4 linked regions of the Homo sapiens genome follow. The protein of the gene in region 1 purifies or fractionates together with the protein of each later gene. This does not show direct contact. Each region holds a gene or a part of one and is shown in the gene's direction. Other genes may lie near its edges. The genes, in order: GATD3, SPR, CLIC4 and ACO2.

The links.
Region 2: the proteins of GATD3 (region 1) and SPR fractionate together in Homo sapiens (co-fractionation; 2 studies listed by BioGRID). This does not show direct contact.
Region 3: the proteins of GATD3 (region 1) and CLIC4 purify together in Homo sapiens (co-immunoprecipitation; 2 studies listed by BioGRID and IntAct, with this or other methods). This does not show direct contact.
Region 4: the proteins of GATD3 (region 1) and ACO2 fractionate together in Homo sapiens (co-fractionation; 2 studies listed by BioGRID). This does not show direct contact.

Annotation. Positions count from the first base shown.
Region 1 is NC_000021.9:44,129,680-44,136,695, forward strand, and holds the start of GATD3 (glutamine amidotransferase-like class 1 domain-containing protein 3, mitochondrial isoform 1 precursor), read left to right. Parts: upstream 1-4,003; 5' UTR 4,004-4,018; coding exon 4,019-4,159; intron 4,160-4,422; coding exon 4,423-4,475; intron 4,476-5,230; exon of another isoform or gene 5,231-5,289; intron 5,290-6,380; coding exon 6,381-6,494; intron 6,495-7,016. Other genes in the region: PWP2 (periodic tryptophan protein 2 homolog), read left to right, coding at 918-1,092.
Region 2 is NC_000002.12:72,883,232-72,890,408, forward strand, and holds the start of SPR (sepiapterin reductase), read left to right. Parts: upstream 1-4,176; 5' UTR 4,177-4,201; coding exon 4,202-4,505; intron 4,506-5,082; coding exon 5,083-5,373; intron 5,374-7,177. UniProt on the Homo sapiens protein: Catalyzes the final one or two reductions in tetra-hydrobiopterin biosynthesis to form 5,6,7,8-tetrahydrobiopterin.
Region 3 is NC_000001.11:24,740,741-24,748,461, forward strand, and holds the start of CLIC4 (chloride intracellular channel protein 4), read left to right. Parts: upstream 1-4,706; 5' UTR 4,707-4,813; coding exon 4,814-4,885; intron 4,886-7,721. UniProt on the Homo sapiens protein: In the soluble state, catalyzes glutaredoxin-like thiol disulfide exchange reactions with reduced glutathione as electron donor. Can insert into membranes and form voltage-dependent multi-ion conductive channels.
Region 4 is NC_000022.11:41,514,107-41,521,127, forward strand, and holds part of ACO2 (aconitate hydratase, mitochondrial precursor), read left to right. Parts: intron 1-1,270; coding exon 1,271-1,429; intron 1,430-1,660; coding exon 1,661-1,811; intron 1,812-3,420; coding exon 3,421-3,525; intron 3,526-4,374; coding exon 4,375-4,466; intron 4,467-6,064; coding exon 6,065-6,170; intron 6,171-7,021. UniProt on the Homo sapiens protein: Catalyzes the isomerization of citrate to isocitrate via cis-aconitate.

The DNA of each region.
Region 1 (7,016 bases):
GCTGGAGTGCAGTGGCGTGATCTCGGCACATTGCAACCTCTGCCTCCCAGGTTCAAGCAATTCTCCTGCCTCAGCCTCCCAAGTAGCTGTGGTTACAGGCACACGCCACCACCCCCAGCTAATTTTTGTATTTTTAGTAGAGACAGGGTTTCACCTTGTTGGCCAGGCTGGTCTGAAACTCCTGACCTCAGGTGATCTGCCTGCCTCTGCCTCTCAAACAAAGTGCTGGGATTATAGGTATGAGCCACCATACCCGGCCCAGCTCCTTTAGATTTATTCCCTCTTATGGGATGTTTTTAGAGTTCACGTAAGTGCATTGTTCCTTGGACCTCCTGTCTAGGCGTTCACTGCCAATCTGTAGGGTTGCCATTGGCTGTCAGGAAGAGTCCTGCACAGAGGGTCCTGTGCCCTGCAGATGCGATGGGGCGCTTCCTTCCTTTCTCATCCATTTATCTTTCAGTTCTCCTTTCCTATGTAAAGTGATGGTGGCATCACTTTTCTCCTTTATTCCATTAACTCAGAAAATTAACTGATTCAGAGCGTGCCTTCCTCCCCTCTCGCTCCACAACACCACATAGCTCTGCAGCGGTCTCTTCCTAAGTGTTTGGTGGAACTTGCTGGTGAAGCCATCTAGATTGGGCCCAGCGGAAGGGCTGAGCTGCCAGGATGACCCCAAAGGGATGGGATGTTACAGTTGGGTCCTTGGGTCCTTGAAGGCCTTTGCTGCCCCAGGGCTGGATGGGGCAGAACCAGATTGTTGGGGCAGGGAAAAGAGGAAAAAAATGGCTGCTGGGGTGGAGGAACCGGCATGTCCAGCCCCTGCTGCTTTTCTCAGGGGTCACAGAGGAGGTGGTTGGGTGCAGGACAGGCCAGGGCCTGGGCGTTGCTGGCATTGACCATCCCTGTGTGATTGACAGCTGTAGCTGGAACCACTATAACATGCAGTACGCACTAGCAGTTTCCAAGCAGCGGGGCACAAAACGCTCCCTAGACCCGCTGGGAAGTGAGGAGGAGGCAGAAGCATCTGAAGATGACAGCCTGCATCTGCTTGGAGGAGGAGGCAGAGACTCAGAAGAAGAGATGCTGGCCTAGAGCCAGCCGGTTGCAGCGTTGGATTGTGCCGGCTAAGACCTGCCAGGGAGATGGGACCCTTGTGCCACCTGGGCCAGCAAAGAGGAGGGGTCCAGAGAACAGCTGAAATACTGTCACTAGTGGTAGTGACTTGCTTTTCCTGTGCACACATGTAGCCCATCAGGACAGCGAGCCGACGGGTCACGCCAGGGGCCGGCACGCACTGGCACCTGGCCCCAGGAGCGGGGCCGTGTGAACGGTGATGAATGTTGAAAATGCGTCTCAGAGAGGTATTCACATGAACTTTGTATGAGACTTATTTATATCTTTAACATAAAGGTTTGATAAAGAACTTAGGGATTAAAAAAAAGATGGAGTTTTCTAACGTGAGGATGAAGTCTACACTTCAGATTAAAAAGGGTTATGTTGTATCCTGCTGTCTTGTGGGGGCTCAAGACCTGCCTGCCTTACCACCAGGGCCTCCGTCCTGGGGAAGCAGGCTGACAGAGCAGGGTGCTCCTGCTGTCTAGCGGGGGCTCTGCCTTGTGACCTGTGCATATCCTTGGGGTCAGGGGCACAGAGCCTCTCCCTGACCTCTTGGGGATGCTTTGGAGTCTGGGGCTGGGATTGGCCTGTCTTGGTGAGCTCACTCAGACCTGCACCAGCTCTGCGTGGGCCACACGGAGGAGGAGACAGCTCCTCCCCTCTGCAGTGCCCTTGGGAATAGTCATCATGAGAGAGGCTTGGGTCTCCATCATGGTAGGGCATCCTGGTCCCCACAGCTCAGTAACAGCAGCCTCCAGGGTCAGGACCTGAGGCTGACACTGAGGTGGGCACTTCACCGACTGCCAGTGCTGTCTGCCAGGCCCAGCCTGTCCCTCGCCAGCGGTGTGGCCCCCAAGACCCTGGGTAGTACCTGGCTCCCTTGCTTATCTGGGAAGTGGAGCTGATATCTGCCTGCCGGCCTCCCGGGGGTGGCGTGAGGCCAGATGTGCTAGAGAGTGGAGATGAATACGACAGGCAGTGCCTTGTGGCCCACAGCACTGTACCTGCAGGCCTGCAGACCAGAGGTCTTTGTAGAAGGGAGGAGCTCAGGCCCTGATGACACCAGGTGTTCTGTGGCTGCACAATCTCCGTGACCCAGACGAGAGAGAATCCTTAGCTATCGCCTACCCAAAGCACAAGTTCCAGTGTTCCCCTCCCTTGCCTCGCCCTTTTCCGTGAAACAATTTCCAGCGTTCCCCCTCCTCGCCTCACCCTTTTCTGTGTCACATGTGCATGGCGATGGACACCTGAGTAGTCGCCCCTGGGACAACTGGAGCTGCGGCTCTGCAGTGGGGTCTGGGAGCTCCCGGCCAGGGGCAGCTCCCGCACACTTGGTAGAGACAGGGTCCTGGCCCCCACACCGACTGAGTGAGAGTCTGCATTCGGCATTTCCTTTCTGAGTGGCGCTTGGTGTTTTTTTGTGCCATCCCACAACCCCATCGCTCCCACCAGCTGATGCTCCCTGGCTGGCCGCTCCCCAGGAGCTGAGAAGCCTGAAGAGGGCCAGGCACGGAGGAGCAGGAACGAGGACAGTCAAATGTGCCAAGCTTGTCTTTGGTTGTAACTGGTAATGTCCCATGTCTGTTATTCTAGTTCCCCACTATCTTGCAAGGATTGGCAGTAAAGTCCTAGTGATGGACAACGCGGCAGTGGGGAAAGTGACAGCCGTGGCTAGATCATCAGATGTGTCTGTAGAATCCGGTGTGTCCCTGTGAACATCCGCCAGCAGTAACCATTCACATTATTTCAAAAACCTGCATTATTAGGTTGAAAATGGGTAAATCGGGGAAAAAGCCAGCACTTATCCAGCTATTCCTCTGTGAACTAACCCATGCATAACAAACAGATTTTTTTAATGGAAGAATTCCAGCTAGGACCCGAGCAGCTGGGATCTTCACACTGACCGTCCATGCTGTGAACGTAAAAAACAAAAACAAAAAAACAAACCCAAACAGCGCCCGGGAATGGTGGCTCACGCCTGTAATCCCAGCACTTTGGGAGTCCGAGGCGGGCAGATCACCTGAGCTCGGGAGTTCAAGACCAGCCAGACCAACATGGAGAAACCCCGTCTCTACTAAAAATACAAAATTAGCCTGGCGTGGTGGCGCATGCCTGTAGTCCCAGCTACTTGGGAGGCTGAGGCAGAAGAGTCGCTTGAACCTGGGAGGCGGAGGTTGCGTTGAGCCGACTTCGCGCCATTGCACTCCAGCCCGGGCAACAAGAGGGAAACTCCGTCTCAAAAAAAAAAAAAAAAAAACCCAAACAGAATCGGCGGCTCACTTGCCCCCAGACTAACCCAGATCAAGCCCCTGGGTGGAACTGCAGTTTCCAGGATACAACATCCCGGGGTCAGTAAAACCCGGAGGGGTCGCTCCGTGGGAGCCGGAGCCGCGAGGAGACAGTCATGGAAGCGGAGGGGTAGTCCTGACCCCGCGTGGGTCCTGACGCCGAGATTAAGACGAGTGGCCATTTAGGAGGATGTGGACCCTGGACGCTCGTGGTGAGTTAAGGATGAGACGGAGGTAAGGTAAGAAGCGCCGGACTGAGCCGCCCCGAGGCAGCCTTGCTCTGCGGATGGCGGAAAGGGTGCGCCGCCTGTGGAGGCGTCCGATGGGGGCGGGGCTGGGGACCCCGGGAGTCACCAGCATCCCTCAGCCTCGAGCACGAGCCCTCAGCCACCACCGGAAGGAAGACAGGGTTCCCGGAACTCTATTCGGAGGCTCTGCGCAGGCGCGGCCCCCGCCCACCGGCGAACTCACTGGATAGGGCTGAGACGGGGGCGGGTCTTGGCTCCGCCCAGAAGGCTGCGCAGGCGCAGTCCCGACGAGCAACGCGTTTGTAGAGGGGTGGGTGCGCACGCTCTGTCCCTGCGTGACCTTCCGACCCCGCTGTCCTCACCGCAATGGCGGCTGTGAGGGTCCTGGTGGCCTCGAGGCTCGCTGCGGCATCTGCATTCACGTCCCTGTCCCCCGGCGGTCGGACGCCTTCCCAGCGCGCAGCCCTTCACCTCTCCGTGCCGCGCCCCGCGGCCAGGGTCGCGCTGGTGAGTGGACGGAGGGGGTGAGGTCAGCTCCCGCCTCCAGAGATCAGCCTTCGCTGTTCTCTGCCCAAGGTCGGCCCCTCTTCCTAGGTCCGCTCCCGCCGCCCCACGTCGGCTCCTTCACCCCAAGTCAGCTCCTGCGGCCCAGGTCGGCCCCATTTTCCCGGGTCAGCGCCCGCGGCCCAGGTCGGCCCCTTTCCCCCCAGTCAACTCCCGCCGCCCAGGTCGGCCCCTTTCCCCCGGGTCAGCTCCCGCTCCTCTCGCAGGTGCTGTCTGGATGCGGAGTCTACGATGGGACCGAGATCCACGAGGCCTCGGCGTAAGTCCTCAGGGGCAGCTGGTCCTCCACCCCGGGGGCCTCGAGAAGGCCTCTCCACCAGTGAAGTTTACTCTTTTTTGAACAGCTTAGAGAAAGCATGTATTTTATTTTATTTTTACTTTTTGTCTTTTGAGACAGCGCCCAGTCTGGAGTGCAATGGCGCGATCTTGGCTCACTGCGGCCTCCGCCTCCTGGGTTCAAGCGATTCTCCTGCCTCAGCCTTCCGAGTAGCTGGGACTACAAGCATGCACCACCACACCCAACTAATTTGTGTATTTTTGGTAGATACGGAGTTTCACCATGTTGGCCAGGCTGGTCTCAAACTCCTGACCTCAAGTGATCCTCCCGCTTTGGCCTCCCAAAGTGCTGGGATTACAGGCATGAGCCACTGCACCCGGCCGAGAGAGCTTGTATTTTAAATACCCTATTCTTGGCTAAAAAAAAGCAAAAACGACTTGCAAAACCCAGGGAGACGCTAAGAAAGAACAGTTTTTAAGTGTCGCTTATGCTGTCACCTAGAGCCTAGAAATGACTTAGCATTTCACTTGAGTGTTTTTCAGGACACACACATTTTGAAAACACTGAGATCACACTCACCCGTGTTTTGCAAATGTTTCTGACGCATGGGAAGTAATTCCCATTCATTCAGTTCTCAACATCATTTTAACAGTTGCGTGGTATTTCTGGGTCCTAGACAGGTTACTGTTTACGTAACTGGTCAGCTGTTGCTGAGTGCTTGGTGGCCTGATTTCCTGTGCTACTGGAAATGACTGCAGGCCGAACCAGTAGGGCAGGAGGCCACCACGCGTGCCAGGTACCTGTAGTTCCCATGTGGTTCAGGGTGAACTGGAGAGGGGAGAGCTGGGTGGTGGCGAAAGGGGTGTCAGGCCATGGAGAGTGGCCTGAGGCTGGTGGCTTTGTGGGTGGCCCACCTTGGCTGGTTGGAGTTGGCACTAGGCAGAGTGAGCTGGGGGAAAGGGCCAGGATGTGTTTCATGATTTGGCCTTGGTGGGATAGAAAATAGCCCCAGAATAGCTTGAGCCCTCCCAGGCAGAACGGCAGGGTCTTGTGTCTGGGGTGTCTGGGTGGATTTCTTATGGGTAGCGGAACCCAAGTGCCAGGGCCAGGTGCTGACCTCTCCCTCTGGCAAGTCACTGCACTTCATGCCTCGGTTTCCTCCTCCACGTAAGGGGCAGTGAGGGCTTAGTGTGTGGGTGGGCTTAGCCACCTATCTCCTGTTGGCACTGGGAGTTGCGGATGCCAGCGTGAGCCCCCATAATGTCAGCTGTTGTCCCCAGGAGGAGCTTCTGTTGCCCTTGCCCTTGGGGAGATGGAGCTGCCTGGCCTGTGGTGTTGTCCTGGGGTCTCTTGTGTCTCTCCCACCATCTGTGATGGGAAAGTTGAGGGAGACTAGAAATTGAACTAAGTAGTGACCGAAAGCCCCGTCACACCGTCTGTGCACGTGGCACTCTGAGCACACTGCTGCTTCTCACTCTTGGTGCTTGCAGCAAGCAACTGGAGGAGGGCAGCCAGGCCCTGGGTGTAGGTAGAGCACTCAGCAGCCGGGGACCCGCACGCCTCCAGGCTGTGCCCTCAGTGGAGTCACCCGGCCCCCATACCCCAGTTTGCAAAGGGAGCTGTTGGGACCAGCTGATCTCCATAGCCCACTTCTGAGGGTTTGTCATAGTCGTAACCCACCAACCGACAGTGAATTGGAATGGGGGTGTGGGGGACGTTTGGCTTGGTATGGAACCAACTGTAACTTTTTGCAGAGCAAGTAAGATATTAATATACATTAGGAATTTGCTCCTGGTACTTAGCTAAAATCCTGTTTTTAAAAATGTGTTAACACAAATCTGAGTGGGGCACGTTTTGAAGAGTTGTCTCTGGTTTTCCCCCGTGCAGGATCCTGGTGCACCTGAGCCGTGGAGGGGCTGAAGTCCAGATCTTTGCTCCTGACGTCCCTCAGATGCACGTGATTGACCACACCAAGGGGCAGCCGTCCGAAGGCGAGAGCAGGTGTGGGGGTGGGATTGGAACTTGCTTCTTGTCTACCTCCCACGGTGCAGCCTTTTTTTGCTGGCTTAGCTTAAACCAAGTCTTGTGTGCAAATGAACGTCCTTCTGAGCAGCTGTGCTCGGGCTGTTCCAGAAGTAATGCTGCCAAGGCTCAGGAGTGCCTTCCTTCCAGTACTCACAGAAGGACTGAAAATGGCGACCGGATCGCTTCCCACTGAGTCAGGCTGCTCATACCTTGGTCTTAAGCAAAGGTGGTGGTTCTCAGCTTGGTCGCCCACCTTCTTCCCCTGTCTGGGCTCCAGATCTGTTTTGCTGGTTCCCAGCAGCATGTCTGTTACTGCGGTGTGTGTGGTTCTGGCCTGTGTGGCCTGAGATCCCCTTCCCTTGCCTGTCCTGCCTGACAGCCCTGTGCAGGCCATTCCAAGGTGCCTTCCAACTGGCCTCGGACCACGAGAGGTCGGAGCTGGAGATTCGAGGAAGAAGCCATAGCTGCCTCCTGGGGCTGTGCTTCTCACCAGTGGGG
Region 2 (7,177 bases), on another chromosome or scaffold:
AATGTATCTCCAGCACCTATAAGTAGCATGAATGTGGTCTCTTCAAAGCCTGGTACTTGGTAGGCACTCAATAAATAGAATAAATAGTTATTGAATGCATAAATAAATGAATGAATGAAACTAAATACGCATAAAGCAGCTGTCACCAGGTGACAGATTATTGAGAAATCCCAGAGCAAAGGAAGCAATAAAGAAAAGATGAGTTTGGGAGGGTAATGAAAAGCTCAGTCTTGGCAGAGAGGAAAGCAGAGGGACCCTGGCTGTCTTTTCCTTTCTTTCAACCTACTAGTAAAAGACGGGAGCTGTCCAGCATGGACCTCCTGAAGTTGGAGTGCCGCTGCAGGGACGAAAGCCTGCTTTCCTAACCCTGCCCAGGATCACTTCATTGCCATCCTTTATCAAATACACCTTTGTTCCCTGTGTGCTTATCCTTCCCAGTCCTTTTCCCTTTACTCAAATGTGCCCAGAAAGCCCATGAGCTACATGAAGTCTTATTGTTCCCAAGCTTTTCAAAAAGCTTTACTCACTCCAGTAACTTCCATGCCATTAAAGTGATGACTGGGATGACAGAAACAGTGTCTTCATAAATGTATCCATTGAAATGTGTTTGGTGCTTCCTTTGTGTGTATCTCTCAAAAATAAGCTTTTCAAATTTGGTGAAAAGCCAAGATTGGGGGCTCAATAGTCTAGCAAATTTCTTAATGAGGAAGCCCTGCTTCTCTATCACACACCTAGTTGATTGAGTTGTGTGTCTCCCCTCCCCAACCTCTAAAGACATGTCTACTTGAATCCTGTGAATCCCAACAAGTTTCTCATCTCCATCTGAGACCACCTCAGCCTGGACCTTATTGTCCATATCACTATCAACATTTTGGTCAAAGCCATTCAACAAGCCTCTAGGAAGTTCCAAACCTTCCCACAATTTCTTATATTCTGAGCCCTCCAAACTGTTCCAACCTCTGCCTGTTACCCGGTTCCAAAGTCACTTCCACATTTTAAGGTATCATTACAGCAGTACCCCACTCTCAGTACCAATTTACTGTATTAGTCCATTTGCCCACTGCTGATAAAGACATACCTGGGGCTGGGTAATTTATAAAGAAAAAGAGGATTAATGGAATCACAGTTCCATTAATCTGTGGATTCCATTAATTAACACAGTTAATTCCATTCCATTAATTAACACAGTTCCATTAATGTCTGGGGAGGCCTTACAATCATAGTGGTAGGTGAAGGGTGAAAGGCGCATCTTACATGGCAGCAGGCAAGAGAGAGCTTGTGTAGGGGAACTCTCACTTATAAAACCATCAGATCTCATGAGACTTATTCACTATCATGAGAAGAGTATGGGAAAGACCCGCCCCCATGATTCAATTAACCTTCCACTGGGTCTCTCCCATGACACATGGGAATTGTAACACATGGGAAATATAATTCAAGATGAGATTTGGATGGGGACACAGCCAAATCATATAACCTGCCAATATTTATTATCTGTCTGTTTTATTTTAGCCATCTTAATGGATATGAAGTGGTATCTTATCGTAATTTTGATTTGTATTTCCCTGATGGCAAATTATGTTGAATATCTTTCTATGTGCTTATTGACCATTTGTGTAATTTCTTTGGATAAATGTCTGTTCATATACTTTGCTCACTTTTTCATTTTACTTTTGACTTATAAGTATGGCTTTTTTTTTTTTTTTTTTTTGAGGTGGAGTCTTGCTCTGTCACGCAGGCTGGAGTGCAGTTGTGAGATATTGGCTCACTGCAACTTCTGCCTCCTGGGTTCAAGCAATTCTCCTGCCTGAGCCTCCTGAGTAGCTGGGACTACAGGTATACGCCACCACGCTCAGCTAATTTTCATATTTTTAGTAGAGACAGGCTTTCACCATGTTGGCCAGGCTGGTCTTGAACTCCTGACCTCAGGTGATCCACCTGCCTCAGCCTCCCAAAGTATGACTCATTTCAAAAACTTTGTTATTTAGAAATAATTTCAGACTTTTACAAAGTTGCAAGAATAGTATAAAGAATTCCTGAATACTTTTAATGCAGATTTCCTAAATGTTAACATTTTACCTTTGCCTTATTCATTCTAATTTTTTTCTGAAACATTTGAAAGTAAGTTGCAGATATGATGCCCCTTTACTAAATACTTCTGTGTACTTCCAAAAACAAGAACACTCTCTGATATAACAATAGTTCACTGGTCAAAGTCAGGAAATGATTCAATGCCAATAACTAACCTACAGACCTTATTCAAATTTCACCCATTCCCCTACCCATGTCCTTTATCAGGCTTATGTTTTTAACACAATTTTTACACATTTCTTACCTTTCAGGCATTTGTATCTTTTTAAAAGAGTTACTGTTGGCCAGGTGGGGTGGCTCACACCTATAATCCCTGCACTTTGGGAGGCTGAGATGGGAGAACTGCTTGAGTCCAGTTCAAGACCACACTGGGCAACACAGCAAGAGCCATCTCTATAAAAAAACACAAAAATTAGCGAGAGCAGATAATCATCTTCCTCAGAAAAGAAGAATTTTCCAGACCCTCTCCTAGTATAGGAAAACCACGTTCTCCTTAGGGGCTGTTCCCAAGTGGTTCCTCCTAGAAGCAGCTAGGTTCAGAAGAGTCTAGGTCTGATTTTTTGCCATCCCTTCATTGTTCCCTCCTTTTCTTCAAAAATCTGGCAAATGGTAGAAATTTAACAAATGTCAAATGAATGGATGGATGGGATCGTGCTTTCATCAACCTGTCTTCTAAGGCCTGGAGAGCAGGGAGAAGCTATTAAAATTCTTTAAATAGTAAGCTGTTGGGCCAATGAGATCTTTATCTTCAGTGTGAATAGGTAAGTGAAAAGCAGGGCAACTTCAAATGGTATACACATATACAGAGTCTTATCAGCGTTAAAATACCAAAAGCTTAAAAAACAATTAGCCAGGCGTGGTGGTGCGCACCTGTAATCCTAGCTACTCAGGAGCCTGAGGTGGAAGGATTGCTTGAGCCCAAGAATTCAAGGCTGCAGTAAACTGTGATCACACCTCTGCACTTCAGTTTGGGCCACAGAGCGAGACTCTGTCAAAAAAAAGAAAAAAGAAAAGAAAAAAGCCTTCCTCCAAGTTGTTTCTTCCTTAGAGTTGGCAATAATAGTGGAAAGGCGGTAACTTTGCTGTTTAGCCCCAGGGGAGGGATCAGCCCTGTGGGGAATTGGGCTAAGTTATCAGAGGTTACTTACTGCCCTTGCTAAACTCTAAAGAGATTCGTTTTTTAAAAACTGACACACAATATTTGGACATATGTATATACACAATGGAATACCACTCGGCCACTAAGAAGGAAACCATGAAGAGATTCCTTTTTAATATATGTAGCTGCATGCCAACTTGTCTCACGTTCCTCCTCTCCTAGAAAAAAAAAAATGTGGATTTTTCTGAAGCACCTGCCTGGAGGTACAGACAGATGATTGCGCAAACTTGAAGCTGAAAGTGGATGGAATTGCTGCCAGGGAGACTGTAGCATGAGCAGGAGCAGAATCCTGGGGAACACACTTTTAGGGACAGGAGTCAGAAATCTCAGAGAAGCAGGGGTTACTGGTGGGATCACGGAGCTGCTCAGGGCCTAGTAAAAGGGAAAGGTTTTAATATCATTTGGAGCCACTGTGGTTCTCCCAGAGGAAGCTCCTGTCATCCAGAGAGCGGTGAGCTCCCAAACAAGCAGAGACTTCAATTCCTAAACAGGCATAAGCTTCATTCAGGGTGTTCACTGGCCACGACCAGGGACGCCCAGCACCCAGTGCAGGGCCTGCCCTGGAAGAGGTCAGTAGTGCAAAGTTAGGGCTGGAACTGGGAGGAAATTCGAGCATGCGTCCCAGCCGGAGGCTGAGCTTGCGGGCGAAGAACACGGCAGCGCTGGGAACCGGGCTAGGGCTTTCCGTGTGGGCCGCGCCTGCCGGCCCTCTCTGTTGTCCCACTTGGCACGGACTGGGCTACCGCCACGGTTTGACTTCCGCCACCAGCAACCAAGGGAACCAGATCCCAAGGGAACCAGCACCCCTGGGCGCTCGCGGCCCGAAGCCTGAGGTTCCCGCCCCGCCCCGGCAGGGCGGCCCCGCCGACACCCGTAGCGGTCCCGCCCCCCGCGGCCGCACCGCCTCCTGCCTGGTCTCGGGTGCCAGCGCCGCCGGCGGAGAACAGGAGCATGGAGGGCGGGCTGGGGCGTGCTGTGTGCTTGCTGACCGGGGCCTCCCGCGGCTTCGGCCGGACGCTGGCCCCGCTCCTGGCCTCGCTGCTGTCGCCCGGCTCCGTGCTTGTCCTTAGCGCCCGCAACGACGAGGCACTGCGCCAGCTGGAGGCCGAGCTGGGCGCCGAGCGGTCTGGCCTGCGCGTGGTGCGGGTGCCCGCCGACCTGGGCGCCGAGGCCGGCTTGCAGCAGCTGCTCGGCGCCCTGCGCGAGCTCCCCCGGCCCAAGGGGCTGCAGCGACTGCTGCTTATCAACAACGCGGGTAAGACCCCGGGGCTGGAGCGGACTCCCCATGTGAGCGCCCACTTCCTCCACCGCTGGGGAATTTAAGGGCTACTCCTAGGGGTCAGATAGGACGCCTAGAAATCTAAAGCCCTAGTTGTTCCAGCTTGAGTAGCAAGTGGAGGCGAGGTGTACAGGAAGACTCGGTGCCGTCGGGACAACAGTCTGCCCCCACTTCCTGGAAAATTGGCCAGCCGGGTTTTCCAAAGCGCCTGTAGAACTTTCCCGAGCCCCTTGCTCTGCGCCCTCTGGCGGAGGCCTGAGTCAGGGCTTGGAGTCTCCAAACAAGTAAACTCTCTGCTTCTCCAAAGGACCGCTAGAGCTTTCCTTCAGCCCCACGGCAAGGCAGGTGCCTTCTCATTCTGCAGCTTGGGATGGCTAGGTTCCCCAGCTGTGTCTTTCCGCAGAGCTGGGGAAGAGAGAAGCCTCTTCAGAAGCGCTAGGCAGCTTCCTCCTCTAGGTCTGCATGGGAAGAGGATATCTGGAGGAACTTGGGAGGGCTGGGGAAGAAGAAAGCCCCGCCTGCACTGAGTTACTCCTAAGGGTTGGTTTTTCAGGCTCTCTTGGGGATGTGTCCAAAGGCTTCGTGGACCTGAGTGACTCCACTCAAGTGAACAACTACTGGGCACTGAACTTGACCTCCATGCTCTGCCTGACTTCCAGCGTCCTGAAGGCCTTCCCGGACAGTCCTGGCCTCAACAGAACCGTGGTTAACATCTCGTCCCTCTGTGCCCTGCAACCTTTCAAAGGCTGGGCGCTGTACTGTGCAGGAAAGGCTGCTCGTGATATGCTGTTCCAGGTCCTGGCGCTGGAGGAACCTAATGTGAGGGTGCTGAACTATGCCCCAGGTAGGTGGGAAGTCCTGCCGTCCCTGTCCTCCAGAACCCACTGGTGCGCCTCTGGGGGCTGGGCAAGCGGCCTAGTCCGCCCCCTCCAGGAAACAACCCACAGGATTTTGTCCTTGAATCTTGACCCATCACCCCTTAGGGGAAATACAGACCCAGGGGAAATAGAGGTGGCAGGGGCCGGGGATACTGGTAGAGAGTGAGGAGTTTCCTGGACTGGAGGGTGGGGCAGGAAGGTCTGAGGTATTAGATGGAGTTTGGGAGAAGACTGGGGTTTGAGTTCCAGGCCTTCCTCATGTGAAATGGGGAAGACGCTCCCTGCCTCACAGGGCACTTGGGAAGACTGAATGAGATACTGTATGTGAAAATGACCCTGACCTGTGAAGTGTTGCCTCATTGTTAAATAGGACTGACCACACTGTATTGTCTGCATATGTTTGCTTGCCTCCTTCCCTCCCTTGACAGGAAAGCCTTTGCACTATGCAGATGTGTGTTCCTAACACCTAGCAAAGCACTACACTAAGGCAAGCTGCAGGACATGCTAGCTGTATGGAGAGCAGACAGACTTTGTTGAGTGCTGACCATCCCTGGCTGAACTGTGCTGGAACACTATTGAGGATTCTGGGATAAATAGAATAGATCCCTTGCTCTCATGAACGCCAAAGGACAGGGAGTCTTGTGATACTGGGTCTAGTTTCTGATGCCACAGCGCCCCTGTCTTAATAGTGAGGAGTCTCTTTTAGGCTTGAGGTTGCTGCAATCAGAAGGTGGTGACAGAGCAGCCATGGAAAGCCTGAGCAACTTGGGCAGAAATCCAGTAGCCTGTGTCCCTGGGGAATAGGGTCAGGCTCCCAGGGCAGACAGGTAGAATGGCCTGCACAAAGCACAGATGTGGCAGGGCTGGATCCCACCTTGCTTTCAAGTTCTTCCTCATGTTCTCCAGTACCCCAGCCCCTACCACCCCTGCCCCCCAACACACATGCACAATTATTCTCACAACCAACATTCAACTCATCATCCACTCTGAATTCAGCCCAAGGATTCGCACAAACAACAGTGACCAAATGTAAGCTACAACCAGGAGCAGAGCAGACTCCAGAAGTCCACATGGCTGCGTTTGGTCTCAGGAGGCTGCCCTGGGCATTATGAGGGAGCTGAGATTTTCAGGAGGTCCCCAGGGCCTGAACCAAGGCAGAGGCCAGTCTGGTTTTCATTTCGGTCTCAGGAAGAATGTTCTAACAGGTGCTCAGAGATGGAATGGGCTGTTTGGAAAGGCAGCAAGTCCTCTCTCAGCAGGGATGCACAGGTCATTGGAAAATAGTCAAGGACCAGGAGATAAATTCTCCCTCCAACCCTGGAATTCTCTGATGTTCTGCCCTCGAGGACCATTAACTGCAAATATTGGGGTGCATGAGTGATTCCTATGTGAAGAATAGAACGTGCTTGCAACAGTTCAAGAAGGGAACAATTCCTTTAGGTGGGGAGACTAGAGATGGCTTTATTGGAGGTAGCTGAACTGGACATTGACCTTGGTTGTTGGCAGATGGAAGGCATTCCTGATGAAAGGAAATAAAGGTGCGAAGGCTCACTGTGGGCGTGGCAGGTCTTCAGTTTGCCTGTAGAGTAGGTGTGCCCAGAGGAGGGCAGACTAGGATGCCTTGAGTATTAGGCCAGGCTACTGGGAAGCTGTTGAGGGGTTTTGAGCGGAGGAATGTTGTGATCCCAGTGATGTTTTTGTTTGTTTATTTGTTTGTTTGTTGAGATGGAGTCTCACTCTGTTGCCTAGGCTGGAGTGCAGTGGCACGAT
Region 3 (7,721 bases), on another chromosome or scaffold:
TTGAGACCAGTCTGGCCAACATGGCAAAACCCCGTCTCTACTAAAAGTACAAAAATTAGCCAGGTGTGGTGGCACATGCCTGTAATCCCAGCTACTTGAGAGGCTGGGACATGAGAATCACTTGAACCTGGGAGGTGGAGGTTGCAGTGAGATGAGATTGTGCCACTACACTTCAACCTGGGCGACAGAGTGAGACTCCGTCTCAAAAAAAATAAAAATAAATATAAATAAATAAATAAATAAATCAAGCCTTGCAAGACCATGATGAATAAATATGATTGGATATGAAAGCACCCAGCTAGGTGTCTGGCATGCAGTGTGAGAGCTCAGTGACCGGTCAAGAATATGGACAGATGGGAATAATACCAACAGCTAGTGTCTACAGAGCACTTACAATCCAAGCTCTTAACATAGACTAATTTATCAATGATCCTATTAAATATTAATAGGTACTAATTTTAGATCCATGTTTACAGACGAGAAAATGGTACTAATTTAGATCCATTTTTACTGATGAGAAAATGAAGCACAGAGAGGTTAAGTAAGTATCCTGAGTTAGTAAATAACAGAAGCAGGATTGGAACCCAGGCAGTCTGGCCCCAGAGTCCATGTGCATAGCAGCTCATTCTGCTGCTGAAATTGCAGAACTTTGGGCTGAGACAGTCAGCGAGCAGCACCACAGAGTTAGAAGTGGGAGGAGGAAAGTGTCATCAAGGGAGGCTTACTGGAGGAAAACCTGACCCCCTGTGTAGGGGCAGTCATAAACACAAACCACCTGGCTTCCCAGACTGGAAGAGCGTGACAATCCAAATGTCATGTCAGGGGTACATGAAACCATAGGATAAACATGGTACAGTCACTCACTCCATAAGCTATTTTTTTTTTTTTTTGAGACAGAGTTTCGCTCTTGTTGTCCAGGCTGGAGTGCAATGGCGCAATCTCGGCTTACTGCAACCTCTGCCTCCCAGGTTCAAGCGATTCTCCTGCCTCAGCCTCCCAAGTAGCTGGGATTGCAGGCATGCACCACCATGCCTGGCTAATTTTTTGTATTTTTAGTGGAGACGGGGTTTCTCCATGTTGGTCAGGCTGGTCTCGAACTCCCGACCTCAGGTGATCCATCCGCCTTGGCCTCCCAAAATCCTGGGATTATAGGCGTGAGCCACTGCGCCCGGCCCACTCCATAAATTTTTATTGTGTACCATGAGCTGTCCTCTGAGCCAGGAATATAGCCATAAACAAAACCAAACAAAAAATCCCTGCCCTTATGGCATTTATGTTCTAGTGGGAGAAGACAGACAATAAGCAGATAAATAGGTAGATATGTATCAGAGGGTTGTAAGTGTTATGAAGAGAGATAAAGTGGAGGGTGGAGTGAAAGATAGCAACTTGCAACGTTGCATAGGGTGGTATTTGGGGAGAGCGCTCTGAGAAGATGACATTTGAGCAAAGAGCCAAAGGAAGTAAGGGAGTGGGAGTTGCAGAAATTCTGGGGGAAGAATGTTCCAGAGAGGGGGAAGAGCAAATGCAAAGGCCCTGAGGCCACAGTGTGCTTCGCATATCCAAGGACTAGAAAGGAGGCCAGTGAAGCTGGGGTGGAGAGCACAGGGGAGAATGGTAGGAGATGAGGTCAGAGGGGTGTGTGTGGGAGGAGACAACATGTCTCCACCCATCTTAAAGATTTCTGTGTGCTATAAAAACAAGCCTGAGTAAAGAATGTAAAGCAGGCATGCAATTCAAAATTCGAAGAGGAGACTTGACTGCTATGTGGTTAGGGGGCCTCCCCTGCATAAACATCCTCTTTCCCTTTCACCCACTCCCAGGACTGACTGCCCATCCATGGGAGCCATATGAGGGCGGAACTTGGGAAACTGTAGGTGTGACTGAGACTACGTCTAAGCACAGGCTCTGGGTCTGAGCCTCTTCCTGGGGGGCTTCCTGTTGGGTAGGAGGAGCCCAGGAGATCATCACCACCTCAGGGCTCTGTGGAGAATGCCCCTGGCTTCCTCCTAGCTAAGATCTCTGTTTAGTCAATGAAGCCTAAAGGGCCCTGGTCTGTTCCTCCTTCCATACCCTGGTGCTGTGAGGCCAGTTGGAGCCTGTGAAGGGCAAGTCACCACCGGGAATATTTGCTGCCTCTAACTCAAATTCTTTTTTTTTGAGATGGATTTCGCTCTGTCGCCCAGGCTGGAGTACAGTGGCGTGATCTCGGCTCACAGCCACCTTTGCCTCCCCGGTTCAAGCGATTCTCCTGCCTCAGCCTCCCGAGTAGCTAGGATTACAGGCATGTGCCACCACACCCGGCTAATTTTTGTATTTTTAGTAAAGATGGGGTTTCGCCATGCTGGCCAGGCTGGTCTCGAACTCCTGACCTCAGGTGATCCACTCGCCTCGGTCTCCCAACGTGTTGGGATTACAGGCATGAGCCACTGTGCCCGGCCTCAATTTGATCAATTCTCAGGTACATTGAGTTTCTGCTGAATTGTTTTTTGGCTTAGATCTGCTTTGAACTGATTCACCATTTGGTTCCTTTTTGGTAGGGCAGAGAGGGTGGATTCTGGAAGGAAACTTTGCTTCAGTTCATGATTCTATGAAAAATTAACACGGTTCAGTCCAGAGTCTAGTCAGTCACTTCAGGATTTTCATGGTTCAAGCCCCCATCTAAGGGGAGCCTCCTGGAATTTATTTATTTATTTTCAACGAACTAGCCGGGCATAGAGAGAGTAGAATATGATGCCACATTCTAGCCTGCAGGGGTGGTAGGGACAGAATAAGTCTCAATGCAGTTAACAGCCATACTGACGGAGCAGCACATATGGTAAGGCAAGAATCAGTAATTAGCCCCACCCACTTCTAGATAATGAAACTGAGGCTTAGGGGTTTTAAGGACACTGCCTTGTCAGATTTGAACTTAAACAGTCAGACTACAGAGCACGTGTTCCTGACCACTGGGATACACTGGCTCTTTCACAGAGCCTCTGTGAGAAAATTTGAGCAACTTACTTTGGGCTGGCAGAGGAAGAAATTGCAAGTTTCACTGTATTTTCATGCCTACGTACAATTTGTTCAAACATTCTGGTATGTGCTAGGCACCGAGGATATGGAGACAAACCTCCCATGTCTGGGCCTCCTGGAACTCACTATTTATCCCAACCTGGGAAGTTGGGAGGAGTAGCTGTGAGTCAAGTATTATGGAAAGTCAGAAAAGGGCACAAGTAATTGTTTCCAGAGGAGGTGAAACTTGCCCCAGGCACTCAACAGCAGCAAACTAGGACCAGGTGCCTACAATCTCAAGGCAAGCACAGCTCTTGCCCTCGGGGGCTTAAATCCCAGGGCAGTTTAACTGGTTTGCGGACCACCTACTTCAGAATTGTCCTGGTGCTTGCTAAGATGTGGATTTCTCTTTTTCCCAGAGGATCTGGGAAACACAAAAAGCGGGGCTGCGTGTAGCACCTAGGTGATTCTGATGCACACTCAAATTTGACAGGTGAGCCGGGGGGAAGAAATGGGTGTGGGCAGTGGGGAACAAGATGGACAACGACTTGGAAGTCCTTAGTGGCCTGCAGGCACTGAGATTGCAGTTCAAGATCTTGAGCTTTGGGAGTTGTTACTCTCCAAGGGCTAGCTCAGAGCCTGAAACACAGTAAGGTTTCATAAATATTTGTGAATATGCGCCCGGCGCGGTGGCTCACGCCTGTAATCCCAGCACTTTGGGAGGCCGAGGCGGGCGGATCACGAGGTCAGGAGATCGAGACCATCCTGACTAACACGGTGAAACCCCGTCTCTACTAAAAATACAAAAATTAGCCGGGCGCGGTGGCGGGTGCCTGTAGTCCCAGCTACTTGGGAGGCTGAGGCAGGAGAATGGCGTGAACCCGGGGCAGAGTTTGCAGTGAGCCGAGATCGCGCCACTGCACTCCAGCCTAGGCGATAGAGCCAGACTCCGTCTCAAAAAAAAAAAAAAAAAAAATATATATATATATATATATATTTGTGAATATGCTGGCTGCCAAGATCGAAACGATCAGGAGCGTCAAAGGGAAAAACGAAGTCAGAGGCAGAAGAAAAAGGTGTTCCCCAGGCGATGAAAACTTTCCAGTAAGTTGTCTTGGAAAAGGCAACTCCGCGTAATAGAGGGACTTGGGGAGGTAGCCGCTGCGGGAAAGGGCGATGAGTCCTGGGGTGCTGCAGCGGGGGAGTGGGTAGGAGGCGCCTCCTAGCTTCCCCAGGGCGGCCGAGGCATGAGGTCACCTGGCACAGCAACAGCAGCAGCTGCGGAGGACGCGCAGGCGCTGCGGCGGGAGGCAGTGTCAGGCTCGGGCCCCTGGGGAATTCCTCCCCTCCTTTCCCCCCCGCACCAGTCCCCTAGAGAGGCGTACCCGGGTCCCGCCCGCCAGAGCCTGAGCTTTGTACCGCCCACCAAGGCCACGCCCCCTACCAGCTGTGGGGCGCCGCAGAGGTCCTTTCTTCGGCTCCGGAGCGGTCCCTCCGCCTTCCCCGCTCGAGGCCACGCCCCCGTGCTCCTGCCGCCTTATTTTCCCCGGAGAGTCCCGAGGCGCCGCGCCTTGGCCCTGCCTACAGCCCGAGGCCCCGCCCCCGGCGCCCCTCCCAGCCGTTTGAAGCGGCTCGGGCTGCGGCTGGCTCAGAGTGGCGCGGGGGGCGTGGGGCGGTGCTGAGGAGCTGAAGCCGTGGCCAGCTCGACGCCGGACAGTCCAGCGAGCAGCACGGCGGGAACCGGCAGCCGGAGCAGTCCCGGAGCAGAAGCAGCAGCAGCAGCAGCAGCCCTCGCCGTTCGCGGAGCGCAGCCGAGCCGGCCATGGCGTTGTCGATGCCGCTGAATGGGCTGAAGGAGGAGGACAAAGAGCCCCTCATCGAGCTCTTCGTCAAGGTGAGCGCTCGCCTCGCGGTCCCGCCCGGCAGATCCCCCGGCTCCCTCCCGGCTGCGGGGAGCGGCGTCCCGGGGCTCTCCTGAGGCGCCCCCGCTCGGCGCCAGCACCCGTCCCGCTGCGGGCACCCGCGCCCCCGGCCCATTGTCTGGGGGCCGCCCGCGCCTTCCCGCCTCCGAGGGCCCGTCGAGGGGTCCGGGTTGGGGACCCGGGCGGCGGCCACCGTCTCCAGCGCGTAGGCATCGGCGGACGCCAGACCAGCGTCCCGCGCCCGGGTGGGTCGGGAAGAGCCCACGGGCGGGACTTGCCTGCCCCGGGGCCCCAGCGCCGGGCGCGCGCGGGTCCTGTCACCACCCCCCGCCCGGGCGCCGGGGCCCGGCCCCACCCGCTCCCCAGCGCTCCGGTCCGCCGCCCGGAGCCCGAACTGCGGCCCGCCGCCCGATGAGCTTTCAAACGAACTTCTTTGAACGCGTTTTTGAAAAAGCATTTGCTCCCCACTGGTCTGAAACGGAAACTTTAATTTTCGATGCAATCTTAAACAAATTTACCAAAGAGCAGGTGCTCTTGGACCTTCGGAAAAGACCGAGATTCCCAACTTGTGTTTTTCTGTCTTGGGCATTTACTGGCTTTCTCGTTTCTCAAGCGCGGAGTGTTCTGTATGATGCAACATTTTGGCTTCTCCCCCCGGCGTTGCTGCTTCGGGAAGGATTGTGTGTGCCCTTTTGTTTTGAAAGAAATTGAGGGAGAGAATTCTTAACTTGCTTGGGCTTTAAAGGGTTGGTTTTCCCTTGTGTCTTCAGCTTTCATGTGTGGAATTTATTTGCTTACACATACTACCCCTCTTCCTTTGCTTTTCTCTTTAATACTTTTTATTTTAGCAAAGGAGAGAGTCGAAGTTATAAACATCTGGATCCAGCTCCTTCCCTCAAAACTTAAAAAAAACACTTTGAGCTTCTTCCAGCCACTTAAAAAGCCAGGCTCATTCAGAGCTAGGCAACATACCGGAAAGTAAATGGTCATCTAGAACTATTGGGTTCTTTTTTTTCCCCGAGTTTTTACTTTAAAGAAAGGACATTTCAGGATGTGTTTAAGAGATAGAGAAGGGCTGGGCGCGGTGGCTCATGCCTGTAATCGCAGCACTTTCGGAGGCCGAGGTGGGAGGATTACTTGAGTCCAGCCTGAACAAGATGGCGAAACCCTGTCTCTACAAAAAAATTCAAAAATTAGCTGGGAGCGATGTTACGCGCCTGTACTACTCTGGAGGCTGCGGTGGGAGAACTGCTTGAGCCCGGGAGGTCGAGGCTGCAGTGAGCCACGTCGCACCACTGCATTCCAGCCTGGGCGACAGAGCAAGACCCTGTCTCAAACAAAAGAGATGGAGAGAAGAAATAATCTGCATTTACCTCTGCAGTCTTCAGTAATGACTGGAACAGTGTTTGCCTTAGGATTTTCTTTCAATTGTCAATTTTCGATTTTTTTTTTTTTTTTTTTTTTGGTCCAGGGAACTGAAACAGCAGACAGGTATAGAACCCCCAAAATATCAAAGCGTTTCGGTTACTTTGAGTGGCAGATATAGTACTTTGAGATGCGTAGAATGTAGGAAGGAACCTGAAATACAAGAAAGGAAGGAGGCCGGGCGCGGTGGCTCACGCCTGTAATCCCAGCACTTTGGGAGGCTGAGGTGGGCAGATCACGAGGTCAGGAGATCGAGACCATCCTGGCCAACATGGTGAAACCCCATCTCTACTAAAAATACAAAAATTAGCTGGGCGTGGTGGCGCGTGCCTGTAGTCCCAGCTACTCGGGAGGCTGAGGCAGGAGAATTGCTTGAACCCGGGAGGCAGAGGTTGTGGTGTGCGGAGATTGCGCCACTGTACTCCAGCCTGGGCAACAGAGTAAGACTCCATCTCAAAAAAAAAAAAAAAAAAGAAAGAAAGGAAGGGTGGTGGGTGGAAAACAGCATGGAGAAGGGAAACAAGTGGGCCAGAGATGAGTTAAAAAAAATTTTTACTGAGTGAGGAATAGGAAGGAATTTCCATAAACTCAAAAAAAGTGCATCCATGAATAATCTGTAAAACATGATACTTAACGGTGAAACTTTAGAACAGTATTAAACTTAGAATAAGCTACTATCGGGCCGGGTGAGGTGACTCACACCTGTAGCATTTTGGGATGCCGAGATGGGGAGATCACTTGAGGCCAGGAGTTCGAGACCAGCCTGGCCAACATGGTGAAACCCTGTCTCTACTAAAAATAGAAAAATTAGCCAGGCATGGTGGTGGGCCCAGCTATTCGGGAGGCTGAGGCATGAGAATCGCTTGAACCGGGGAGGCAAAGGTTGGAGTGAGCCAAGATCAAGTCACTGCACTCCAGCCTGGGCGACAGAGTGAGACTTCGTCTCAAAAAAAAAAAAAAAAAGATAAAGCTATTATCAGTTATGGCTCTATTCAGTATTCTATTATTCTATTGGAGGAGCTAATCAAAGAAGACAAGAAAAATTAAGTATCTGAATTAGGAAGAGATCAGTGATTAATGCCCTGCTTACTATTAATTTCATCTTTCAGTTAGAATAGCAGAGGGGCGTGTGCAGTTTTCCAAACTTGAGTCACTTGCATCCCCTTTCTGTTTTTCATATTTGTGTTGAGAACCACTGAAAATCATCCTTCCTACCACTAGTTGTAAGCCTTTCTCATTGGGCTTGGTGGCAGAGAATCAGGGTTCAAGTCACAGTTCTTTACTCCTTGGTTGGGTGACCCTAGGCAGTTTGTTTTCACTCTTTAAGCCTTGTTTGTCTCATTTGTGAAATAAGAAATGTTTTCTGCTACCCAGTGATTCAAC
Region 4 (7,021 bases), on another chromosome or scaffold:
TGCATCCCCAAGAGATGAGACCTTTGGACCTTAGAGTCTGCTAGGCAGATGCTTGTCCTGAGGCAGAGGCCCTGGGGTTTCTGTAAGATTTCTGGGAGCACTGGTGGGTCCTGAGAGTTCACAGAGCCTGTCACACCTCTCATGTGTTCTTCCCCACATCCCCGGGTGGGGCACTAACTCCATCTGACTGATGAGCGGCAGAACCTCAGGTGAAGGCTCTTGCTGCAAAACAATAAATAAAAATGTTGCTTCCCGCAGGCACTATTCTGTGCCTCATGGACAGGATCTCATCCAGTCATCAGTGAACCAATGATGTGAGCACGATTGTTAGCTATTTCTTGATAGGGAAACTGAGCTCCGAGAGAAGTGACTTGTCCATGGTCCCACAACAACTAGTAGATGGTGGGGCCAGACCTCAGACCCCCCGATACAGGACGCCTGGCTCAGGGCTTGCCAAGCAGTGTCCTGCAGCTTCAGGGGGCCAGTGCCTCAGAGGTGCCTGGTGCCTGGGCCACACTTGGGTGTTGAGCCTATACAGCACCCAAGGTGTTGAGCACTTGGGTGTTGAGGTGTTGCTGCCTTTCTTACCAAATGTTTTGGGGGAAGTGCTCCCCACGGCTGGGAGGAGCGCCTCAGTGAAGGGAGTACTGTGAAATGGGACAGGTGATGAGGCAGGGTGGCATCGCGCCTTGAGCAAGTCACATGGGTTCTCAGAGCCACCTCCAGATGCTGAAGTGGACGAGGCATCACCTATTCTTTGCAGTTGAGGAAAAGTTCATAGCTTTGTGTACCCACTGGGGCCTCCCAGGACTTCTTCCTCAGGGGCCTTGTGGGGCTGGAGCCAGCTCCTGGAAGAACCACCAACCCCGATGAGAAGCCAGGTGGGGATGCTCCACACCCAGGATGAGGCCGGGCCTGGGCCCATCACAGGACAGTTTCTCTGGTTCTTGTCACATCCTGGGGTCATGGTGGTATGGGTGTTTGGTTACTGTGCTACAAATGAGGAAACTGAGGCATGGGGCAGCATTCAAAGGCCCAAGACATATAGCAGGAAATATCAGAGCTATTCAAGAGCCCAGGCCACCTGTCTCCCAAGGCTCTGGCTCTTCTTGGCCACCCTGGAGACGGCCTGGATTAAATGGGGCTGCTCCTACCAGTTCCATCCTGGGAGAGTGGCTGGACGTGGTTGGGAGGCCCCGGGTCAGTGGGGCCATTTTTTGGTATTCTCGGCTGAGGGCTTCTAAATATAACATCTTGGATTATTTTTCAGATTATTCTGGAAAACTATGCGTACCCTGGTGTTCTTCTGATTGGCACTGACTCCCACACCCCCAATGGTGGCGGCCTTGGGGGCATCTGCATTGGAGTTGGGGGTGCCGATGCTGTGGATGTCATGGCTGGGATCCCCTGGGAGCTGAAGTGCCCCAAGGTGAGGGTGGGGAGGGACTCATTCTGGGCTGGCTGTGGGGTGGTGGTTGGTGGGGATGAACGGGAGACGGTGGGACCCAGGAGGGAAAAGGGAACAAGTTAGACTCGAATCTTCTGGGAGGGAGGTAGAGACCAATAAGCAGCAATGTGAATGGCAGCAGGGCCATCCTGACTTCGTGGCTGGCACAGGCACACACGGCCTCTCACAGCCGCCTCGCCCCCTCCTGTCCAGGTGATTGGCGTGAAGCTGACGGGCTCTCTCTCCGGTTGGTCCTCACCCAAAGATGTGATCCTGAAGGTGGCAGGCATCCTCACGGTGAAAGGTGGCACAGGTGCAATCGTGGAATACCACGGGCCTGGTGTAGACTCCATCTCCTGCACTGGTGAGGAAGGCGGCCAGGCGACGTGGCCCCTACCCTGTGCTGGGCCTGATGGGTCTCCAGTTGGGAGTAGAAGCGGTGAATGGCCTTCACTTGAGAATCTGTCTGTTCCATTTGGGGACTTGGGATAGACAGAGGTAGAAGGAAAATTGGAGACAGCATTAGAGATTGTCTAGTCCACATCCTCATTAAACAGATGAAGAGATTGAGATACCTGTCGAGGCTGCCGGTGACTTCCTAACTGTGTGGCCACACACGGTTAGGAGCCAAGTCAGCTTCTGCTGCTGGGCCCAGGCCATAGCACTAGGCCACCTTGGGTGATCTAGACGAATCCAGAGAGGACAGAGGCAGTGGTGGGAATGGGCAGAGCCAGGGCTTCATTCATGAAGCAGCTGCAGGCCCACATCCTCCCTTCGCTGAAGTTCGAGCCTCACTCACTTCCCTTGGATTAGAGATCGGTGCCTGTCCGCCTCCAAGACCAGGTAGGAGCCAGCTGCTCCCTGCCTGTCACTCCTGGTGACCTGGCCTGGATGCCTGGTCCTCAGAAATCCAGGGAGATTTGTAACAGTCTAGACTTCCCAGGTGCCTGCCTGGGCTCCCTGGCAGCCCTGCAGAACTCTGGTTCCCCTGCAGTGATGGGGGCTCACTCCTGCCACGGGACTGCTCAGTCAGGACGTTGGTAACAGGCCCATACCTCCGTCCTAGTGGCTCCTGAGGCAGGTGGCCTGGTAGCAGCTGCAGTACCTGTGAGCCCCACCAGTTCTGTGACGCTTTGTGGTCCAGACAGTGTGTATCATTTCAGTTTTTGTTTTTGTTCTTGTTTTTTGAGACAGAGTCTAACTCTGTCGCCCAGGCTGGAATGCAGTGGTGCAATCTCGGCTCACTACAACCTCCGCCTCCTGGGTTCAAGCAATTCTCCGGTCTCAGCCTCCTGAGTAGCTGGGATTACAGGTGTGCACCATGATGCCTGGCTAATTTTTTTTGTATTTTTTTTTAGTAGAGATGGGTTTTCACCATGTTGGCCAGGCTGGTCTCAAACTCCTGACCTCAGGTGATCCACCCACCTCGGCCTCCATCACTGGAAAACTTGAGACACAGAAAAGTGTCTCCACCATGGTATGGCTGAAGGAGGGCAGGCCACCAGGCAGACAGACCAAGATCCGAATGTCAGCATCTACCTTTATGTGCTTTATGGCATGACCTTGAATCTCTCTGAGCCAGTTCCTCCCCTGCCAAAAAGAATAGCAACTGGGCAGTGTCTGGTCAGGTCAGCCTACAGTACGTGGTGCCTGTTCAATCTCTTGGGCGACAGTCAGGCCCCAAGCTCGCAGCTCAGTGTGTGGGGGCTGAATCTTCACCTGAGTCCTCTTCATTCTACCCAGCAGCCACCCTGAGCTGGGGCCCTGAGCTCTGATCCCCATGGCCTCCCCTCACCGGCCCAGGTTTTTACCCAGGGCCTCAAGGGATGAGTCGGCCCGCTGTCACCACATCTCTCTGAGTGGGAGGAGAAGCAATGCAGCTCCCTGGTGTGAAGATGCAGGTGGCCGCGTAGCAGGTGTGTGGGACCCTGGCCCGGCCACCAGCCAATGCCCGGGGCTCTGTTGCTCCACAGGCATGGCGACAATCTGCAACATGGGTGCAGAAATTGGGGCCACCACTTCCGTGTTCCCTTACAACCACAGGATGAAGAAGTACCTGAGCAAGACCGGCCGGGAAGGTGAGCTGGCAGGGGCAGGCCCGTGTGGGTGGAACAGTCACATGCCCGCTCCTCCCCAAGACAGAGCTATGCCTTTCCCTGTAGGGCAGGGGTTCTTAACCCATTGTCTCCAGACAGGCGTCCGAGGCTCTGAGAAAGCCCTGAAGAGGTGCAATATGTTTCTGAGTAGATTGTCTGGAGCTCTCTCCAGCTTCTCAAAGGGCCTGGCATCTGAGTTCAAGATAGCCCCACCTCAGGATGGGCATTTCATTTTCCCTGGAAGGTGGCTGAATGCCCGCCCTTCTCGGCCTGGTCCCTGCTGCCCCCTACAGGAAACTCCGGAAATGACATGGATCGCTTCTGTTGATAATTCCTGACCTAGCAGGGGAACATTTGGAAGGAGAACCACTTTCCCAGCCTCCCCTGACAACTTCCCTGAGGCTCTAGCCTGGCTTCTTTGGAGCTCAGAGGGCATTGGCACCTGTGAAGGGTGGTGCGTTGTGGGAGTGAACGAGGAGCCAGAGACCAGGGGCCATGGGGAGAGCCGTAAGCACGTGGAATCCTTGGAAGGCTCCTCCCTTTCCTTATTGAGTGACTGCTTCTTCAAAACCCAGCTCTTCACTTCCAGGACACCCTCCCCGGCTCTGAACCTTAGCTGGCGCTCCTCCTCTGTGTCTCCGTGTCCCTGACAGCTCCTGCACTAGGGTGTGAGCTCTGTAAGGGCAGAGACAGCAGCCTTGGTTTCTTCATTGGCCTAGTCAGTGCCCAGGGTGGGCCTGGTGTTTGGCAGGTGCTCAGGTGGGTGGTGAGTGAACTCTCAAGAACAGTTTATGTTTCACGTGCTCCATCCCCGTCCCTTGTTGATTTCAGACATTGCCAATCTAGCTGATGAATTCAAGGATCACTTGGTGCCTGACCCTGGCTGCCATTATGACCAACTAATTGAAATTAACCTCAGTGAGGTGAGGAGACAATTAACTGGGTTCAAGAAGTTTCTGAGAGTAGTGGGGAGCAGGGCGGGTCCTGCCTAAATACTCACTGAGGGCCGGGTGGTGGCTCACAGCTGTAATCCCAGCACTTTGGGAGGCCAAGGCAGGTGGGTCAGTTGAGGTCAGCAGTTCAAGACCAGCCTGTCCAACATAGTGAAACCCCGTCTCTACTAAAAAAAAAAAAAAAAATACAAAAATTAGCTCGGCATAGTGCCATGTGCCTATAATCCCAGCTATTCAGGAGGCTGAGGCAAGATAATCGCTTGAACCCGGGACGCAGAGGTTGCAGTCAGCCGAGATCGCACCACTGCACTCCAGCCTGGGCGACAGAGCGACACTGTCTCAAAAACAAAACAAGAAAAACCTCAGGGTGACTCGTGGGCCCCTGGGTCCCCAGTGTTCCTGCAAACTGCTTCCTGAAGCAGCCTGGAGCAGTGGGTGGGGAGGGGGGAGACACAGCCACGGGGAGAGCAGAGGTAGCTCTGGCTGCTGAACCAGAAGTGGATGTCAGTTTGCCACCAGCTCAGCTTTAGGAGAAGCCAAGGTTTCACCCTGAAGGGTTTTTGTTATCTGAGTTCAGAGGGCAAATCCCAGCAGGGTTAGGCACCCTGAGACGCACAGATCAGAGCAGGTGTTTGCAGAGCCAGAGGAAGGGCAGGCTAGAGGATCCCGTCTGCAGGAGTTCACACCTCGGCTCTGCCACTTAAGTTGTGTGGCCTTGGTCACGCACTTAGCCTCTGTAGGCCCCTTGCTCCATCACGTGTGGAACCTACAGCAGTCGTGAGGATTGAATGAATTCATGTAACTAACACTGACGGAGGTTTACTGCATGCTGCGCACATAGCTGAGTGCCTCGCATTTACTGATGATTATGATATGTAAAGCGTCTGGCCTTAAGTCCATTTTTGTCATGATTCCAAAAGCGGCCGGGCATGGTGGCTGACACCTGTAATCCCAGCACTTTGGGAGGCCGAGGCGGGCAGATCATGAGGTCAGGAGATTGAGACCATCCTGGCTAATGTGATGAAACCCCGTCTCTACTAAAAAAATACAAAAAAATTAGCCAGACGTGGTGGCGGGCGCCTGTAGTCCCAGCTACTCGGGAGGCTGAGGCAGAAGAATGGTGTGAACCCGAGAGGCGGAGGCTGCCGTGAGCCAAGATCGTGCCACTGCACTCCAGCCTGGGCAGCAGAGCGAGACTCCATCTCAAAAAAAAAAAAAAGATTCCAAAAGCAACATCGAATGGGAGATAATGAACTTAGGAAGCTGACAGCCTTGATCCATTCCATGCCTCTGCTGTCTCCTAGCTATGTGACTTCAAGCACAGCATGTCACTTCTGAGCTTCAGTTCCTTCATCTGCAGAGCTGAGCCCAGCCTTGCAGGGCTGGAGGGAGCCCGGGAGCGGGTGTGTGCAGAGCCAACTGCTCAGTTCTTCCCTGTGATGAGGTTTCAGTCAAGAGAAAGTCGTTGGCCTCTCTGTGGGGACGTGGTGAGGCAGTGAAAGAGGCTGTCCCCGCTTCAAGGTTTCTTCCCTCCTCTCTTTCTTCTCCTTGCATGTTTGTTTCTTCAGCTGAAGCCACACATCAATGGGCCCTTCACCCCTGACCTGGCTCACCCTGTGGCAGAAGTGGGCAAGGTGGCAGAGAAGGAAGGATGGCCTCTGGACATCCGAGTGGGTGAGCACCTTCCACCCCATCTGTTTAGCAGGTCTCAGGGCCAGTGGCTCTGCCCAGGGCTGTAGACAATCACCTATGCCTACTGTGTGGCACTTTCTAAGGTGGGCAGTTTCTGAAATGGGTTTATTATTGAAAAATTACTTTTTCGGCCAGAAGTGGTGGCTCATGCTTGAAATCCCAGCATTTCAGGAGGCCAATGCAGGTGGATTACTTGAGTCTAGGGGTTCAAGACCAGCCTGGGCAACATGGAAAAACCCCGTCTCTTAAAAGAAAATGCAAAAATTGGCCAGGGGCAGTGGCTCACACCTGTAATCCCAGCACTTTGGGAGGCCGAGATGGGTGGATCATGAGGTCAGGAGATCGAGACCATCCTGGCTAACACGGTGAAACCCCATCTCTACTAAAAATACAAAAAATTAGCCAGGGGTGGTGGCAGGCACCTGTAGCCCCAGCTACTTGGGAGGCTGAGGCAGGAGAATCGCTTGAACCCAGGAGGCGGAGGTTGCAATGAACCGAGATTGTGTCACTGCACTCCAGCCTGGGTGACAGAGCGAGGCTCCGTCTCAGAAAAAAAAAAAAAAATTGGCCAGGTGTGGAGGCGCATGCCTATAGTCCTAGCTACTCAGGAGGCTAAGGTGGGAGGATCACTTGAGTCCTGGAGGTCAAGGCTACAGTGAGCCGAGATGGTACCACTGCATTCCAGCCTGGGCAACAAAGGCAGACTCAAAACTGCAGACTCAAGCAACAGAGCCTGCCTCCAAAAAAAAAAAAAAAAAAAAAAAAGAAAGAAAAGAAAAATTACTTTTTCTTGGCAGAAAAGAAAAATATGTTTATTGTAGAGAATATTCACA